Linked DNA regions of Homo sapiens: region 2 is linked to region 1. Evidence: fine-mapped expression QTL. A gene starts in region 1. The other region holds a variant in brackets. All regions are shown on one strand. Distances are between the middles of the regions. Region 1 holds the start of SCRN1 (secernin 1). Region 2 overlaps SCRN1 (secernin 1).

Evidence for each region.
Region 2: its variant is fine-mapped to the expression of SCRN1 in whole blood (INTERVAL, PIP 0.90).

The regions. Positions count from the first base shown.
Region 1 is chr7:29,985,990-29,995,593 of GRCh38, forward strand. It overlaps SCRN1 (secernin 1), which reads right to left and starts at 3,812. Exons shown (of 8, transcript NM_014766.5): 1 at 3,653-3,812. It overlaps FKBP14-AS1 (FKBP14 antisense RNA 1), which reads left to right and starts at 2,667. Exons shown (of 3, transcript NR_187577.1): 1 at 2,667-2,804. RefSeq lists silencers at 3,039-3,158, 3,249-3,518, 3,529-3,578, 3,599-3,938.
Region 2 is chr7:29,915,458-29,925,061 of GRCh38, forward strand. SCRN1 (secernin 1) reads right to left here. Exons shown (of 8, transcript NM_014766.5): 8 at 4,652-8,658. The coding sequence ends at 8,500. WIPF3 (WAS/WASL interacting protein family member 3) reads left to right here. Exons shown (of 9, transcript NM_001080529.3): 9 at 1-1,604. Among named protein-coding and RNA genes, the nearest start is that of FKBP14-AS1, 68 kb to the right of the region's middle. The variant A/G (reference allele first, on the strand shown) is at 6,532.

The DNA of each region.
Region 1 (9,604 bases):
TTTGGGAGGCCGAGGCGGGCAGATCACCTGAGGTCAGGAGTTCGAGACCAGCCCGACCAATATGGTGAAACCCTGTCTCTACTAAAAATACAAAAGTTAGCCGGGCTGTGGTGGCGCACGCCTGTAATCCCAGCTACTCAGGAGGTTGAGGCAGGAGAATCGCTTGAACCCTGGAGGCAGAGGTTGCAGTGAGCCGAGATCGTGCCACTGCACTCTAGCCTGGGTGACGGAGGGAGGCCCTGTCTCGAGAGAGAGCAAGACAGATGCGAACCATATTTGCAATTTTATATTTTCTAGTAGCCACATTTTTAAAAGTAAAGAGAAACTCATGGAATTATTTTTAGTAATATATTTTACCCAATATATCCAACATGTTACTTCAATATAAAATCAATATAAAATTATTAATGATATTTTAAATTCTTTCTTCATATTAAATTTTTGAAATTGTGTGTATATTTTACACTCAGCATATCTCAATACAAACTAGCTGCATTTCAAGTGCTCAATAGCCACATGAGGCTGGTGGCTACCAGATGAAACAGCACAGATCTAGACTCTAATGAAAACGGATTTAAAAAAAAATAACTTTTGTTTATCTGTATTCTTATTCTTCAACAGACACAAATTGCATGCATTTCTGTATTTTTACAACTTGCTATTTTAAATATCTTTGGCATATCTTCACATTCATCCTCTAATGCAAGTTAGTTTTCTAATTTTTTTAATTTTTTTTTTTTTTTTTTTTTTTTTGAGACGGAGTCTCGCTCTGTCGCCCAGGCTGGAGTGCAGTGGCACCATCTCGCCTCACTGCAACCTCCGCCTCCCGGGTTCAAGCGATTCTCCTGCCTCAGCCTCCCAAGTAGCTGGGACTACAGGCGCGTGCCACCATGCCCGGCTAATTTTTTGTATTTTTAGTAGAGACGGGGTTTCACCGTGTTAGCCAGGATGGTCTCGATCTCCTGACCTCGTGATCCGCCCGCCTCGGCCTCCCAAAGTGCTGGGATTACAGGCGTGAGCCACCGCGCCCGGCTGCAAGTTAGTTTTCTAAATGGCACATGTCACATCAGCATCTGTCTTCACTTCGATATATATATTCATATTTAGCTCCTATCTGTTCCACTGCCTCAAGACATTCTCCCTGTTCCCTGCCTCCTGCCACCTTCTCCCTCTGCACATCACTGGCTGTGAAGGTTCAGATGCCCAGAAGAAACGTTTTCCACATCTTCACCACCTCTTCACACTAACCCATGCACAATTTCTAGCTCTGCTTTAGTAGATCTAAGGTCACTGACTCATGACTCAGAAAAGTCAAATGCAAATCATAGGAAAAGCCTGTCTTCACTGCTTCAAAGTTATGTTTACAATAGGCTTGTTATTTACTTTTACTTAAAATTAGAAACAGTCGAAAAAAATGAAATGCATGGCCTACTTTGGTTCCTTTTCAAAATAAACTGGCCTAATGGTTCTCCACAAACACAAGCAACTCAATTTTTAATCAAAAAATGTACTTCTTGCCTCAAAGACTTTACTAAAATAATGTTTTTGGTTCTTAACTATAGAAACAGTTTCACCACTGGAAAATGTGAACATGAGGTAGATACAGCTTAAGAAGTTAAAAGTCTTGAATTAGGAAATTAAGGTGTTGTCATTGACTTTAAACACCTATAGACTTTGTAATTCATATTACAGTTTGGCTTCCCATTGCTCGAAGTGTTTGCCTTCCTAATAATGACAGACTTGCTGTTCTCCCCCAGGCTCTAAAAGGTAGCATGTGGAACCCGGGGGAGTTATGAGACCTGGATTTGGGTTCTCACTGCCAGTTGACAGCCAGATATATGATCTTGGCGTCCATTCGCCCCGCTGGCCTCAGCCTTCCTGCTGTAAAAAGGGGGTTGACAGCAGGCTCCTTAAGACTGCCTCCACCTCTGCCCCCCGACCTTAGCTCATCCTCCTCTATTCCATTATCCCTGAAGCATTTGCCTCCTCATGTATCTCCTTCCCAAAAGACAAGATGGCTGGCAGCACGGAAGTGAAAAGGGAAAGAAAGGCTGTTTAAAAAAAAAAAATTCTAAAATGAGTCACCTTTCAAGAATTTCCCATTTCCTCATGCCTGGGTGCTTCCTCGTGTCGCTAAATCAGTTCTTCCAATGAAACTTGATCTAAGAACCTGGTATTTGTTATGTGCACTGCTCTTGGATGATGTTTACAATGTGCACACATCTCTTTTAAGAGCTTGTAGGTATCAAACGACCTCCAGGTTGTGCATCAAAAAGACATCAGCAGCCACAGAGTCAACTTTAGTTGAGCCTGGAGAAAATCATACAAAACCGTAGAGTTTTAACTAGGTTTTGTATCATCTTTTGATAAGTTAGGAAAAATAATTACAGCTCTCCAAACTTCCCACTTAACAACTCCCAGGACCCTGCAGCACCCTAAAATCTAGCCAGCTCCAAGAATCACTCTCTACTCCATACCCGGATGAGCCTTGACTCACACTAATTCCCTCCCTGAGGCTTAAGTCAGGGGGCAGCTGATGGTTGTGGTCTGTGCTGCTTCCGCCTGGCCTATTTTTCATGCTGCCATTTTGAATTAGCATAGGTTTCCTCCGCAACTGATGCATCTTCTAACCAGGCTGGGAACACAACACGCGCACACGCGCACACACACACGCACGCACCCACCCCACCCGGCTGCCGGACGCAAGCGTAAGTCAAGGACTTGCATGCTAGAATCAGACAGAAAATCCAGAAAAGCCACGTTATTTAACAGAACCCTACAAGGTCAGCTTTGAGTCAAAGCAGGTAACAGTTTCCTTCGATGTTTTCATGGACATTTTTATTCCCAAATCCGAGTTCTCGCCAATTCTCTAAAGTTCAAGCGCCCCTCCTGCTTTGCAGACCACATTTCTCTCGGCCCTCGCGAGTGAGGTCGCCAAATACTCGACGCCTCAAGAGCGAGCCGAGGAGGCAGAGGCCGACCAAGCCGGCCTCTCGGCAGCCCCGCCCGGCGCCCCGCGGAGAACGCCCGGGTGCGGCTCGAGGGAAGTTGTGTCAAGTCCCACGCGCGGCCCGCGGAGAACCCAGGGGCGGCCCGCGCGCGTCGGCCTAGCGGGGAGGGCTGCTCCGGGACACGGTGCGGCGGCCGCGGGCGAGTTGGACGCGCTGGCAGAGCCGGGCCGAAGGCGGCGGGCGTCTCCGGGCAGCCATGTTCGCGGCGCCCGCCCGCGCAGCAGGTACGGCACCTCGGGGAAGGTGCCCGGCTCGCCCCAGACCCCAGGGTGGCGAGGCCAGGGGCCCACAGGCACATCCCAGTGGGCAGCAGGTTGGCTGCCAGGAAAAGGAAACCCAGGAAGAGCAGCGCGGGGAACCCGGCTGCGGTGCGGGAGCCCGGGGCCGGCATCCCTCCACTGCACCCCCGCAGTCCCCGAGCCGAGTCACCCCGGCTTCAGGCCGAGGCCACCTCTCCTCTGACCGCCCCCAGGCTCCCAGCCCGCCCGGGCCAGCACCGGGAATCGGCCTGGGGTAACGCTACCCGCGGGTTCGGAGGGACAGCGGGAGGAGATGAAACGCAGGAGGTGGCGATGGCGGGTGGGGTGAAACCGCCGGGAAAGCAGCGCTGCAAACGCCCTGCGCTCCCAGACGCGGCTCACCTGGGGCGGCGGGCTCCGGGCTCCGCTCTCCGCTCTGCGGTGCTGAGGCTGCGGCCGCCGAGGGTGCGGGTGCTGCCGGGTCCGGATTACTGCGGCGACCTCGGGGGCTGCAGCTGCAGTGGCGGAGGCGGCCGCCGGGCGCTTCCCCCTACCCAGACTCCCGGCGCTGGGGCCCGCCGCCCCCCGCAGCAGCTGGCCCGACTCACGTGACCGCGGGCCCACCCTCCGCCTCCCCCACCCCGGCCCCCGGGGCCCCGCCGCACCCCGCGCGTCTGGCTGCACGGGCCGCGGCGCTGCTCACCGTCGAGTAGGGAGGGGGCCTGGGAGCTGGAGGAGCGGCCGAGAGGGCGTATCTCGCCGCAGAAAGTGGCCCCCTCTTTGCTAGATTTTTATTTCTTGGTTGTGGCTCTCAAAAGGGAAAACCCGGGCTTCAAGGAGCCAGGCCCAGCATCCTTTTGGCGCCTCTTCCCGACGTTTGGTTGCTACGTCCGGGCCTCGGCGCCCACACAAGATTTCCCCGGAGAGAAATGTGTCCTGTACCTTGTTGACTCGCACGTCCAAGTCGAGTCCCTGGTTTTAAAAGTGCCGTCCTGTACCATGTTGGTAAGCCAGACCCTGTCCCAGGTACTTGGACATTGTGGCCTAGAGAGGTTAAGTAACTTGCCCAAGGTCACACAGCACGTAACTAAGCCAAGATTCCATATCTGGGTTAATAAAGTTATGTACAGGGACTTGTGTGTTGTGTGTCTGTGTGTGTGTGTGTGTGTGTGTGTTGATGCCAGCGTCAACTCCATCTTTTATAAGTAAATAAGAAAAGACTATCTCAAAAGATATGAAGACGTAATTCAGAGGAAAATAAATGCAATTCTATCCTGGCACACGAAAAGATATTCAGGCTCACTTAACTGCAAATCAAATATGTGGGGTAGCATCTTCCACCAGCCAGATTAACAAAAATCAAAACATTTTGAGTCTTGCTTTGTCGCCCAGTCTGGAATGCAGTGGCAGGATCTCGGCTCACTGCAAACTCCGCCTCCTGCCTCCCGCCTCCCGCCTCCCGCCTCCCGGGTTCAAGCGATTCTCGTGCCTCAGCCTCCCAAGTGGCTGAGACTACAGACCCACGCCACCAGCCTCGCTAATTTTTTTTGATTTTTAGTAGAGATGGGGTTTCACCATGTTGCCCAGGCCGGTCTCAAACTCCTGAGCTTAGGCAATCCGCCTGCCTCTACTATCCAGCTTCCTTTAAAAAGGAGAATGATCTTTATTTGCTAATACAAAACTATTTCCAACCTATACTAACTAAAGAAAAATAAAAAGCTAGGTGCAGAACGTTGTGTGTGTTATTTGTGGGAAGAAAATATATATGTATGTCTGTACTTATTTTTGTAAATGCACAGAGTATCTTTGGAAGAGTACGTAAGAACCTGTAATAGATGCCACCAGGGAGCAGAACTGGGAGACTGGGTGCTGGGGAGAGAAGGAGACTTTTTTCCATGCCCTTTGAATGTTGAGCCTGTGCTTACAGTCTGACACATGAGTAAACGGATAGTGGGGAAGGGCTGAGGAAGTTGGTGTAGGTACTGCAGAATAGAGCATTGGTTCGTAGACTCTTGGAGCACAAAGGTACTTTACTGTTCTTTTAGTCTAGCCAAGAAAACTGTAGCCAATGAGTCTAAATAATCAATATTAGAAATTTCTAGCGGGCTTATTCCTGGGTTCCAGCCCAGATCTATGGAATTCAGAGTCTCTGGGGCTGGAGCCAGGGAACCCGCATTTTTCAAGCTCTTTAGTTGTTTCTCTTGCATGTTAAAGTCTGAAAGTCCGTGAGGTGTGGGTAGGGAGAGCATTAGGAAAAATAGGTAATGCATGCTGGGCTTAATACCTAAGTGATGGGTTGATAGGTGCAGCAAACCACCGTGGTACACGTTTACTTATATAACAAATCTGCACATCCTGCATATATACCCCAGAACTTAAAATAAATATTAAACTTTTTTTAAAAGTCTCAGAGTCGCTGTTTTATTTTTTGTTTGTTTTGAGATGGGATCTCGCTCTGTCACCCAGCCTCGAGGGAAGTGGCTCACTGCAGCCTCTACCTCCTAGGCTCAAGTGATCCTCCTACCTCAGCCTCCTGAGTAGATAGGACTACAAGCATGTGCCACCATGCCTAGCTACTTTTTAAAATATTTTTGTAGAAATGGAGTCTCACTATGTTGCCCAGGCTGGTTTCAAGCTCCTGGACTCAAATGATCCTCCTGCCTTAGCCATCTGAAGTGTTAAGATTACAGACGTGAGCCACCGTGCCCAGCCAGAGTCACTGTTTTAAATGTCTAGTTTAAGACTACACCACTACTAGAAAGGCAAATGCAATCCTGTGCCTTCCTATAGCCAGTATATGTCATTTGTTGTGTAAAGGATGGCACTTGCACCCTACGCTGCTCCCCTGGAGGCAGCCATATGCTCAGTACACGGATAGGGGATACTGCCAACCTGCCTGCCTGGCCTGAGATCTTTGAAGCCTGTTGGTTTGTCCCTACACAGCCACAGGAGCTTTGAGGCCAGGAGCCCAGGAACACATGGAGATTGAAAGACACCTGCTTTCCCCAGGGTCTGCATGGAGAAGCTTATTATATGGCACTATGAACGCTTATTAAACAGCAGCAATGACCGGGCATGGTGGCTCATGCCTGTAATCCCAGCACTTTGGGAGACCAAGGCGGGTGGATCACGAGGTCAGAAGATCAAGACCATCCTGGCCAACATGGTGAAACCCCGTCTCTACTGAAAATACAAAAATTAGCTGTGTGTGGTGGTGCGTGCCTATAATCCCAGCTACTTGGGAGGCTGAGGCAGGAGAATAGCTTGAACCAGGGAGTCAGAGGTTGCAGTGAGCCAAGATCGTGCCATTGCACTCCAGCCTGGGTGAGAGAGTGAGACTCCGTCTTAAAAAACAAAAACCAGCAGCAATACACTTATTTTGTCTCTGCTTTGTATCCAAAAGACAGTCCCTACTATTATTTGAGCTGCATAAATAGAGATAAGAGAACAGAACTGTCCAACAAATGTGGAGAACACCAAGAAATATCAGTAAGGGCTTTAATCATTGGCCTCTATCAATTATGTGAGGTTTAACTTTGAGTAAATTATAAGATTTCCATGAGCTAGCTTGCAAGGAAAAAAAATGTCTTAAATGACTTGCAACTGTTACACGGTCATTTATATTCCATCTAGTCATATTCAGAGACTTAAGAGCTAAAAAATACAAGTATAACAGATTTCCTTTTTTCTCTTCCGCCCTGAGAAGGACATGATCCCTACAGAGGTTACTCTCTGCAGCTGAGGCAGAAGGAGATTATAGCTAGAGGCTGTCTGCTAAACATGTCTGGAGGGTACACTCAGTGATGACCACAGATACTAATAGTGTTTTCAGTTTGGAACAATTATGAATAAAGCTGCTAATAATATTTATCTACAAGTTTTATGTAAGTGTAGGTTTTCATTTCTCTTGGGTAAACATTAGATTGGTGCAAAAGTAATTGCAGTTTTTGCCATTACTGTTTTAAAAATGGCAAAAACTGCAATCACTTTTGCACCAACCAACCTAATACTTAAGAGTGAAGTGGGTGAGTCATACGGCAGGTGTATATTTAAATTTATAAAAAGTTGCCAAACTGTATTCCAAAGTGGTTTTTACCATTTTACATTATATCAGAAATATATGAGAGTTCCAGTTGCTCCACATCCTTATCAACACTTGCTATTATCAATCTTCTAAATTTTATCGATTCTCACAAATGTGTACTGAAATCTCCTCGTGGTTTTAATTTATATTGCCTTTTTTTTTTTTTTTTTGAGACAGCATCTCACTCTGTCTCCAGGCTGGAGTGCAGTGGTACGATCTCGGCTCACTGCAACTTCTACCTCCCAGGTTCAAGCAATTCTCCTGCCTCATTCTCCTGAGTAGCTGAGACTACAGCTGCACACCACCATGCCTAGCTAATTTTTCTATCTTTAGTAGAGATGGGGTTTTACCATGTTGGCCAGGATGATCTTGATCTCTTGACCTCATGAGCCACCCGCCTCAGCCTCCCAAAGTGCTGGGATTATAGGCATGAACTACCATGTCCAGCCTATATTTCTTTGCTGATTAATAATGGTGAGCAACTTTTCCTATACTTGTTAGCCATTCATATATGTTCTTTTGGAAAGTGTTTAAGTCTTTTGCCTGTTAAAAAGTTTTATATTTTTAATTAGTATTATTATTACATGTTAAGAATTCCTTATATCTGGATACAAGTTCTTTATCATATTTATGTATTACAAATATATTCTTTCAGTATATGTCTCGCTTTTCATTAGTGGTGTCTTTTGAAGAGAAGATTTTAATTTTGTTATGCTCAATTTATCAATATTTTTTCTTTTATAGTTAATACTTTTTATGTCCTAAGAAATTTTGCCTACTCCAAGGTTGCAAAGATTTTCTTCTATGTTTACATCCAGAGATGTATAGTTTTTTAGCACTTATGTTAAGACCATGGTCCATTTCAAGTAAATTTTTGAATAAGTGGAGGTAAAATTCCAAGTTTATTTATGTGACTATTCAATTGTTCCAGCACCATTTGTTTTCCCCCAGGATTTACCATGCTATTGACAAAAGTCAATTGACCGTGTAAATGTAGGTATATTTCTCAACTCTCTCTTCCATTCTATTGGTCTACATAATTATTCTTTTTTTTTGAGACAGAGTTTCACTCTTGTTGCCCAGGCTGCAGTGCAATGGCATAATCTTGGCTCACTGCAACCTCCGCCCTCCAGGTTCAAGCGAGTCTCCTGCCTCAGCCTCCCAAGTAGCTGGGATTACAGGCATGTGCCACCACACCTAGCTAATTTTGTATTTTTAGTAGAGACGGGGTTTCTCCATGTTGGTCAGACTGGTCTCGAACTCCTGACCTCAGGCGATCTGCCCACCTCGGCCTCCCAAAGTGCTGGGATTACAGGCGTGAGCCACCATGCCCGGCTATGTATTTATTCTTATGCCAATACTATACTCTCTTGATTATTATAGATTTATATCAAGTCTCGAAGTCAGGCAGCTTAAGTCTTCCAAGTTTGTTCTTTTTCAGAACTGTTTTGGCTATTCTAGGTACTCTGCACTTGGTTATAAATTTTAGAATCAGCTTGCCAATTCCTATACAAAATGCTGACTGGAATCACATTCAATCTATAGACCAATTTGAGGAGAATTTACATCTTAATAATATTGAGTCTTCCAATCTATGAACATGGTATATTTCTCCATTTTTTTAGGTTGTCTGTAAGTTTTCTCAGCAAATATTTAGAGTTTTCAGCATACAGGTCTTGGACATATTTTATTTAATAATTATTTCATGTTTTTGGGTGTTATTGTAACTAATCATTTTAAATTTTATTTTTCAATTGTTCATTGCTAGAATATAAAAATGCAATTGGTTTTTGTATATGGACCTTATATCCTATGACTTTACTAAATATGCTTATGAATTCTATTAACTTTTTCATCATTTGTTAGAATTTTCTCTGTACTCAATCATGTTGACTAAAAATACATTTTTAGTTATTCCTTTTCAATCTATTTGCCTTTTAATTCTTTTCCATATCTTATTGCATTTGCTAGGACCTACTTAATGCTATAGAGGAACAGTGAGAACAAACAAGTTCAGTCATTCACCACTAAGTATGATATTATTTGTAGAGTTTTTTACAGATACCATTTATCATGTTGAGGAAGTTTCCTTCTTTTCCTACTTTGCTGATAGTTTTATTTGTTTTTTCATTTGTTTTTAATGATGAATCAGTGTTGAATTTTGTCAGCTGCTTTTTCTGCATCTATTAAGATGATGAAATGCTTTTTATCCTCTATCCTGTAAATACGATAAAATACATTAATTGATTTTCAAATGTTTAACTGCATTT
Region 2 (9,604 bases), 71 kb before region 1:
AAACATCGTGTGAAATACCTGCCACAAATACCTAGTGCCTCACTGCCCCCATCTTAGGATCCTTGGAGCCACCCGTCAGGCAAAACCTAGCTCCCTTCTGAGCTAAAGGAGAACCTTGCCTGACAACTCCACATTCATTCCCTTGTGGTGGGCACCTGTCTGTGGGGAGATGTGTGCAAGCTCAGCCACTCTGAATATGGAAAAGGTCAGGCCGGGCTGGTCCTGCTCTTCACTCCCTCTTCTTGATCCTGTAGGGAGTGGAAATGTGTTTTTGCTTGCTGCCTGACCCCTGATGTTCCCCATCTTTGGTCGGGGAAGACTGTGACAGAGGAAGGAGAAAAAATAGAAGGAAACAGACTGATCCCTGGGCTGTGCTCAAAATAGCTGCCCTTTAAAGGAAATCAGGCAGGGAGGGGAGGGAAACCAGCGAAAAAGAAATTTGCTTTGCAACAACCCACGCACACATTCACCCCTGAAGTATATCATGAACAGACCAAGCCATCCAGAAAGGCAGCCGGTCAGGAGGGTGTGGGCAAACATGACTGCATCTGCCTCACTGTTGTCTGGAGTAACGACTCAGGTGGTGTCCTGCAGCAGTGCTGTGCTTTCTCATTCCAGATGGAAGCAAGTGAGCCAGGGTCAAATTCCCTTCTCCAGGGGAATGAATCAAGCCCAAACTGTAACAGCTAAATAAGTAGAAGTTTTTGCAGGTCATCAGCTCTGGGCATAACTAATTTGTTTTATTGGTTCTGGAAGATTTCCAAAAAGCCAGAATTTATTATTATAACAGTGTCCACTCCACTGCCCTCACAGTTGTGTAAAATAATTATAGAAGTTTTAATGATCCTGATTAAGAAGACCCTAGACAAAGGCAATTCCACCTTCAGAGTAGACTGCCTGCCCTAATGAGGTGTTTAGACATTCGTGTCTCCTATGGCTGGGATGGAAATTAAAATAACACTATTTAAGGACAGAGCGGGCCAGGAGCAGTGGCTCATGCAGGTAATCCCAGCATGGGAGGCTGAGGTGGGTGGATTACTTGAGGTTAGGAGTTCAAGACCAGCCTGGCCAACATGGTGAAACCCTGTCTACTCAAATACAAAAAATTAGCCAGGCATGGTGGCTCACACCTGTAATCCCAGCAACTTGGGAGGTTCAGGCACAAGAATTGCTTGAACCCTGGAGGTGGAGGTTGCAGTGAGCTGAGATGGCACCACTGCACTCTAGCCTGGGCAACAGAGCGAGACCCTAACTCAAAAAAAAAAAAGGACAGAGGGGAGGAAGGAGCAGAAACCAAAAATGGCAATTAGGGAGAAATCTCAGGAATGTGGCATCCCATCTCCCCTTGAGACCTATCACTGAATTCACAACCCTTCGAGCTCATGCTGGTGCACTGAGTCCCTTGGGCGCTGTAAAGGTTTAACCCCTTGACTGTAAACTCAGACTTAGAGACATCTGAGTCACACAGTCCCCGCCATTGTCACATATTCTCACTGACACTGCAGTCTGTGACTCCTCCAATGTTTCACGTGTATTTTATATTTATTGATGTCTCCTTCCGCAGATTCATTTCTTTGTACTTAATAAACTTTAGTAAGTGGAAATGCTTCCAGTCGTTTCCTTGTTAAAACCCATCGGTGGTCACCAGTATCAATCTAAACCAAACATTTTTAAGGATCAGGAGAAGTTGAAGTTCTAAGAATGATAGAAAAAAAATAGATATTTACATGGATACGGTGCTTGCTGTAACATACTGTGTTAGAAACAGGGCCTTTCTTTCTTGAGCTAACTAGCCTAATTGGTATTTGGAAAAAACAAGCAAGAAAAAAAAAATTTCTCAGGTGCATTTTTTAAAAAGTAGATAACACTATATTTATTCAGTTTGATTAACACAGAATGGGCAGTGTATTGCTTATAAATTCTGCTAAATTGTGTTGAAATAGAACAACCTTCCCTCTACGTGCACTTAGTCCCCACTCCCAACTCAGCAAACCCCCCAAAAAAGCCTCCTGTAGGAACAGAATCATCTTGAATCCCCCTGTAGTATTTTAAGGTGGACCTTTGGGAACAGGGTTCAGGGGAGGTGAGATTTATCTGCTAGGCAAGCTATCTCAGAGCTAGTGCTTAGAAGGCAAACCAGGATCTGAATCTCCATTTTGCCTCTTACAAGTTGCCTCTTACAATCTGTGCCTCAGCTTCCTCATTTGTCAAAAGGGGACATAAATATGTACCCGAGTGTATATTGGTGAAGATTCAATGATGTAATACACATGGGCAAGCCCTCAACCCTTGGATCACAACGGAGCCAGTGATGCACACCCTGCACCCCGGGGAGCAGCCAGTTTGCTGGTTCCATGCTTGGGCACAAACAGGGCTCTGCTGGCTGCATCCCAGGCACTTCATTCAGTATTTGCTGAGCTACTCAGACCACACTTCACTAACTCTGCTGCTGGATAACAATGAGAGAGCAGTCATTAAAATTCATAGATGTTCCTGAAATAAATCTCATCTAGAAACTAATTTCAAAGCTGGTTACTACACACTTTGCATCAGAATTAGTTAAGGGGCCGTTTTATTGCTCTCTTATTGGTGGAGGTACAGATTGGCTCTTTGATGGCCAAAAGGGCCAGTCTGAATGGGGAAGAAAAAGTAAGGGCCGAAGATAATCTACAAAGTGGATGATGAACTTCAGAGTCACATTGAGCATGGCCGTGGTGAAGTAGCTAGAAGTGTAAGCACCTTTTATGGAGCTAAGTGTGAGAGACGTGCTTCCTAGAGAGGGAGCAAGTTAATGGGAAGGGCCATGGACTCCAGAAGCAAGTTCCAAATTCTCAGACGGTGCCCCGGGAGGCTTCAGCATCCTCCACCCACCCATTCTGTTATGGGTCGAATTGTGTCCCCACAAAAATCCATAGGTTGAAGAAGTCCTAACCCCCAGTACCTCAGAATGTGACCTTATTTAGAAATAGGCCCATTGCAGATATCGTTAGTTAAGATGAGGTCATACTGGATTAGGGTGGGCCCCTGATGCGATATGACTGGTGTCCTTATAAAATGAAGAAATTGGACACAGACATAGACACAGGGAGAACGCCACATGAAGATGAAGGCAGAGATAATCAGGATGCTGCTTCTATGGGTCCCAAAGTGCTGAAGATTGCCAGCAAGCCACCAGAAGGTGGGCAAGAGACATGAAACACATTCTTTCTCACAGCCCTCAGAAGGAACCAACCCTGCAGATGTCTTATTCCTGGGACGTCTGGGCTCCAGAACTGTGAACCAGGAAATTTCTCCTGGTTACGCTGCCCAGTTTGTGGTACTTTGTGACGGCAGCCCCAGCAAAAGAATACAGGCTTTGTCACCCAGAGCTTTGCAGGAGGGTACAATGTTTATGAAAAGAGAGCTGGGAATAAAATTTCAGAATTAGCAGCTCCTTATCATGTAAACAGAGCAGTCATCTACCCTGACCTTGAAATAGGTCATTCATTGCAGGTGACTAAGTCCTATCTTCACGAGCAAGACATTCAGTTGCGTTTTACCTGTCACAGTGGAGAGTCATGGAAAGCAAGCTGGCATTTCTGGGTCACAGGAGTGAAGAGAGCTGGCTTTTTCCCTAAGTGGCATCCTCTCCTGTTGTGGCATTGCTGATGCCTTGGAATCAAGATGTCTGGCACAGAGTACCAGCCACTCTGATGATCTAGACTTCCATTCTAATAACTATGGTAAAATACACATAAAGTCTACCATGCTTACCATGTTTAGTGCTTAATTCATTCGTGTTGCGTACATTCATATTGTTGTACAACCGTCACCACCATCCCTCTCCATAACTTATCTTGCGAAACTTTCTGAAACTCTATACTCATTAAACAGTAACTCCCAATTTCTCCCCCACCTCCAGCCCCTAGCAACCACCCTTCTAATTTCCGTCTCTGTGATTTTGACTGCTCTAGGTACCTCATAGAAATGAAACCATATAATATTCGTGACTGGTTGATTTCACAGAGCATAACATCCTTAAGGTTCATCCATGTAGCATGTCAGAATCTGCTTCCACTTTTTAAGGATGAATAATATTCCATTGTATGGATAGAACACATTTTGTTTCTCCATTCTTCCATCTGTGGATATTTGAGTTGCTTCCAGATTTTAGCACTGTGAATAGTGCTACTATGAACATGGGTGTGCAACCTCTCTTCCAGACCCTACTTTCAATTCTTTTGTGTATACCCAGAAGTGGGATTGCCCGATTATACAGCAGTTCTGTTTTTCATTTTTTGAGCAACTCCATACTGTTTCCCACAATGGATGCACTGTTTTACATTCCCACCAACAGTACATAAGGGTTCCAATTTCTCCACATCCTCACCCACATTTGTTATTTTCTGGTTGTGGTTTTTTGTTGTTGTTGTTGTTTTTGTTTTCAATAGTAGCTATCCTGACGGGTGTGAGGTGATATTTCGTTGTGGTTTTATATTTAAAGACTGAATTTATCCACAGAACATTACATGATGCAAGAAACTGCTGAACTGACTGTTTTCTAAAGATTCTAGCCAGAAAAATATATCCATTCTCATACATTTTCTATATTGCGACTGAGGCCCACGTTTATTCACGAGACACAAAACAGAAGAGGCCACTCCACTGGATGTTAATTTCAGTTTTTTTTATTGTATGCTTGATGCATTTAGAGACAATTCCAAGGGCAAGCACTGGATAGGGATATTATCTGCTTTGTAGATATTTGTACAAAAGACTGTTAAGACTACATGGCCAGTTCCCACTGCAGGAAACAGAATGATTTTCTTTTTTTTTTATTATTATTCCCTGCCAATAGCATTTTCCATCTAACACATTTAAATTCTCACAGCATAATTGCAAACATGTACATATTGGTTCCCACGAGAAATCTGCAGGTGACATTTCGGGATGTTTGGAGTCAATCAGATAAAGCACATTATGACAGAAACCATAAGAGGGGAGCTGGGACCTGGGACTGTGCAGAATGAAAAGCCACGGCTACGGGAAGCATAAGCTTGTGCTGCAACGGCATGTGCACATGACCTGCTGCTCCTGGCCCTCTACGAAGCATGCCCAGCAAGGGAACCTCCTCCGTCCCTCCTCCACGTGCTTCCTTCCTAAGGCTGAGAGCTCAACTGAAGACCTTCCCCAATAAATGACAGATGGCTCTTCAGTCAGGAATGCAGTTAGTGGTTTCATGACAGACACACTGGTCCCACCCGGCTTCCCTGCTGAACCACCCAGTACTGAATAACACCTGTACCAATGTGGGATGACATCAGCTAGGAAGCAAAGTAATTTGCCTGGTTGATGATTATTTTTTATACCTAATGATTCACCCAATAGTAAAGGAACCCCACAGCTAAGGTCTAACAGGCATATACCTGCTCTGTTAGTTTATAAGAAAGACTCGTTCTAATAACACCAGGTCTTATATTATTGAGCACTAAGGAACCTCCATAATTTCGATTATATTCTACCTAAAATTTCAAAGCACCTCCAAGAATGAAAGGGTACTATTTCTGCTTTGCTAATTTACTCCTGCCAGAGCTTCTGTCCTTGAATATGAGGGCTATCTTCACCTATAGTAAATCCCATCTATTAGACAAGACTAGCTAGCTTATGTTTGGTTATGGGGCAAGGGAGTGGGGGAGAGATTCTGTCCTTTCTGGCTATGGCTTCTTTCTGCACAAGCATGCTCAGCCCCCACCCCAGTCTGAAAAGATACACAAAGGGTTTCCTAGGAAGCTACTTATACACTATGACCCTTAAACATAATTTTTGTATTTCATCTTGAATATTCATGTTCCCTATACTGCCTTCAGAAAAGCAATCCCTGGTCCACAAATTATTCATGTAACAAGCATTTTTCAAAAGCAAAATCTGTTAGGAACATTTAAAAATGAACATTCCTCACTATAACAGCCTGCTCAAAACCCAACAACCTATTTCCAGCTGTTAATATAAGTACATAAAGTCACTAAAAGTAAGCGCAGCCACATCAGCAGATTCTCTGCTCTCTTGTCGTCTTTCTCCACCCATCCCAATGCACAACTGTCAACTGTGCTTATAGACCACCTCCAGACCTGATGGGAGCTGCCACACCCCTTTTAACTTTTGCCAGGCTGTACCATGCCCTCTAGTGGTAGGACTAGGACATCACAATTGTGGTGCAGAGTATTAGCCAAGACAGCTCTCAATTAGGGTTGCCTTCTTTAAGATGCTTGACCAAGGTCAATGTACCCTAACAGAAGTAGCCATTGTGTTTCCCAATGGGTAATGACATAAAGCGGGTAGGGTTATCCATGGCCTTTGTTTGGCCCATAGAAATGAAAGGAGGCTTCTGTGTAATTAATTCTTACTAGACTTCTTTTGATCAAATCCTGAATCACCTTGGTTATCTCAGACATGTCAGGTCTGATGAGACATTTCATAGTAGGCGAAGGTGAAATCACTCAGTGAGATTTTAGAGCAGCTTTCTGTATCATCTTGCTTTACATAGCCACTTGG[A/G]ACATGGACTTGGGAGGGGAGAGTTACCTACGTCATCCTCGAACCTCACTTTCCCCCCCCCTTAACAGTGATAGAAAGACACTTTTAGAATAGCCGCCCCACCTAAAAGGACACTCTAAATTCACCAACAGTGAAAGCCCAGGCCAAACCTGCGTGAAGCTCTTAGCAGCTACAGGCCACCATTATTGGTTGCCATTAACTCTGTCAGCTGAAATCGTCTTCCCATCACCCACAATGTGTGGTTAATGATTTTATATACAGAGTTTACAAAACTGCTGACTAAAAAGCTCATGGCACTCCTATACTCACGCTCTGGAGAGTTGGTAGAAAAAAAGAATGTGTTCTGATAAAACCTCTGATCCTCACTGTTCACATCCATGTAACAGGGCTCGGTCCCCTCAAAATCTCATGATACAGCTTCTGGGAAGGAGTTATTAACCCTGTCACTTCCCAGATTGCTGATACTCACAATGTTTCCATTTGCAGATTCCTGCCAAGAATGATGAGGCAGGATTAGGCCCAACTGGTGCTCTCCCACTAGCTGCTGTATTTACATACACTTCTGTTCATCATCTCTGCCCGTTTCAGGAGTAGCTGAGAGCTTGAATAGGTGGCGGTAAGCTCCCACCACCACCCCATGCCCAGTGCAGCTACCCGCCTGAATGAAGGCAGCTCCTGGGACATGTGAGGTGTGAGGAGTGGGGGGAAGATCCAGGGAAGTCAGCTGCTTTGTATTTGGGTTTGTGGGATGTAATGGCCTTGGCAGGAATGGTGGGGCCTGAACTGGTATCCTGCAGAGAAATGCTTCTATATCCATCTATCACCTCCTTGCCCTCTGTCTTCCCAATGCTAAGCCCATCTGGTCTTCCTTGCATGCTTTTCTATGCTCTGGTGGTAAGTCAAATCCTTTAAGTGAACCCGACATTGGAAACAAATCAGTTTAATTAAAGTCTCTCTGCTGAGATAATGTAGTGACTGCTAGGATTCCAGATATTTAACTAGAATCTAAATAGTCAAGAGTTCTTCCTTTTCTTTCCCTCCTTGGCTGAGAGATTCACTACTCTGTGGGTGGAACTGTGCCATAGGGCCATTCAATTACTCCTAGACTAGCTGTTGGTAACTAGACTGGGAATCATTTCTACACAAGGAATCCTGTGATGGCTGTGCTGCTGTGTGGGGAGAGCTGCCTCCTGGGACATCCATGCAGTGATTCAGAAGGCCACCAGCATGGCTATGTCTGAATCTCGGAAGTGAATAGGTTCCAGCTAACAAATTATCAGCTCTCCTGTAAGTGGAAGCAGCTCTGCAGTCCACCACACATAAGCACAGCGCATGGAAAATGGGAAGACAGCTTCTTCAGGAGCCCAGGATGTAGGAAGGAGCCAGGACTGGAGAGGGGTCCCTTTCTTCCTTCCAATTGGTTCTGCCCCCCAGAAGACACCTGTAGAGACACTGTGCACTACAGGCATGCACTCACGGGAGGCCACGGAGGGTCCCCTTGACAACACACACAAGAGCCCTGTGTGTGTGCACAAATGCCTCTTGTTAACCTGAAAGAAACCGCTACTGAGGGAAAGACTAAGACTTCAAAAGAATTTGCTTTTCCCGCCAACTCGGCACTGTGAAGCCTGCCTTTCAAGGCTTGATGAACTCTAGTCCTCTTGTAAAAGGCTAATGTGTCCATTGCCACTGAAATACAATAATAGCAGCTTAAAATCCACAATTAGTCACACAACCGAACAACAGGCAACGGGATACATGTTACACTGCACAGGAAGGAGACCTACATTGCAGAAGGGGACGCTGTGAGATTCAAGGTGGAACACAAGGTAACAGTTTGATCTGGCTTCAGAAAAGGAGGCCACATATTAACTTTCTCATTTTACTCAAACAGGAGAGTGGTTTGTTTTGCTGGTAATTTAGTAAGGTGGGAAGTCTTAAATAAGAAGGGGAAAGGGAACGCTTACTTCACTTAAAGAACTTAATCTCCGTGTCAACACAGTCATAGAAAAGGTCCCCCACTTCCGCAGGGTCCAGTGGCTCGGAGCTGGTCAGGATTTCTTCCATGGCTTCCAGGCCTTGCTTCTCCAGCTCCAGCATGGTGCTCCTCAGCTTGCGACCTTGCTCCTGAGGAAGGACACGACTGCTTTAGGTGTCAGCAAAATAGCAGGGGACATTGCAGCGGACACTGAAACCCTCTAGGGGGCCAGCTGGCTTCCTGCTCAAGGTCCTGTCCTCCCCACACTCCGTTTCACACACGACTGCCGCAGGGATTGTTCTAGAATGCCAGTATGATTATGTCACTGCCCGGCTTAGAACACCTGCACAGCTTTCTGCTGCCTTCAGGACAAAGCCCAGACCCCAGAGTGACACTGAGGGAAGGCCCTTCTGACATCCAAGACCACTTCCCCTGCATCTCCCCACTCCTCAGCTGGACTGAATTCACTGTAGCCCTCCAGCCTCTGCTGCTGTCTCGCCCCTGCACAGGTGGCCCTGCCCTCTGGAGGGCCATCCCCTTTCTCAGCGCTTGGTCGACGTGCACCCATCTTCAGCTTCCTTGCAAAGCCTTTCCTCTTCCCCGCACAGTGCCACACCGTTCCCCCTGCCATGGGCGCTGTCTCCCACCTTGTGCTGGCTTGCCTCTGCAGCTGTGGCCCCTTGGATGGGAACTGGGCTCATTTCTATCCTCCAGTGACTGGGAGGGCACTCTCAAAAAATGTTCATTGAATGAAAAAAAAAATGGATCAATGAATAAACAGGTGCCATGTCTCTCCCCTGTTCACTCTTTTTCTGAGATGGTGAGTTCACTTCTTCCATGGGACTCACTCATTTATGGCAGATGACAGTGAAAGCTTTCATTTGCCCCATGAGTCCCAGAACTGAGAAGCTGCTCTCACCACCCGCCCACCACTGCTTCATGCAGCATCATGTGACTCCACCTGAGAGTCATTTGTAAATTTCAAAACCCACCAGCCTCAGCAGCCTCATCTTGAACACACAGCCCTTTCTACCTCTTCATTCTAATGAACCAAATACCCAAAACACCATACACCACACAGCGACAGTTTTCATC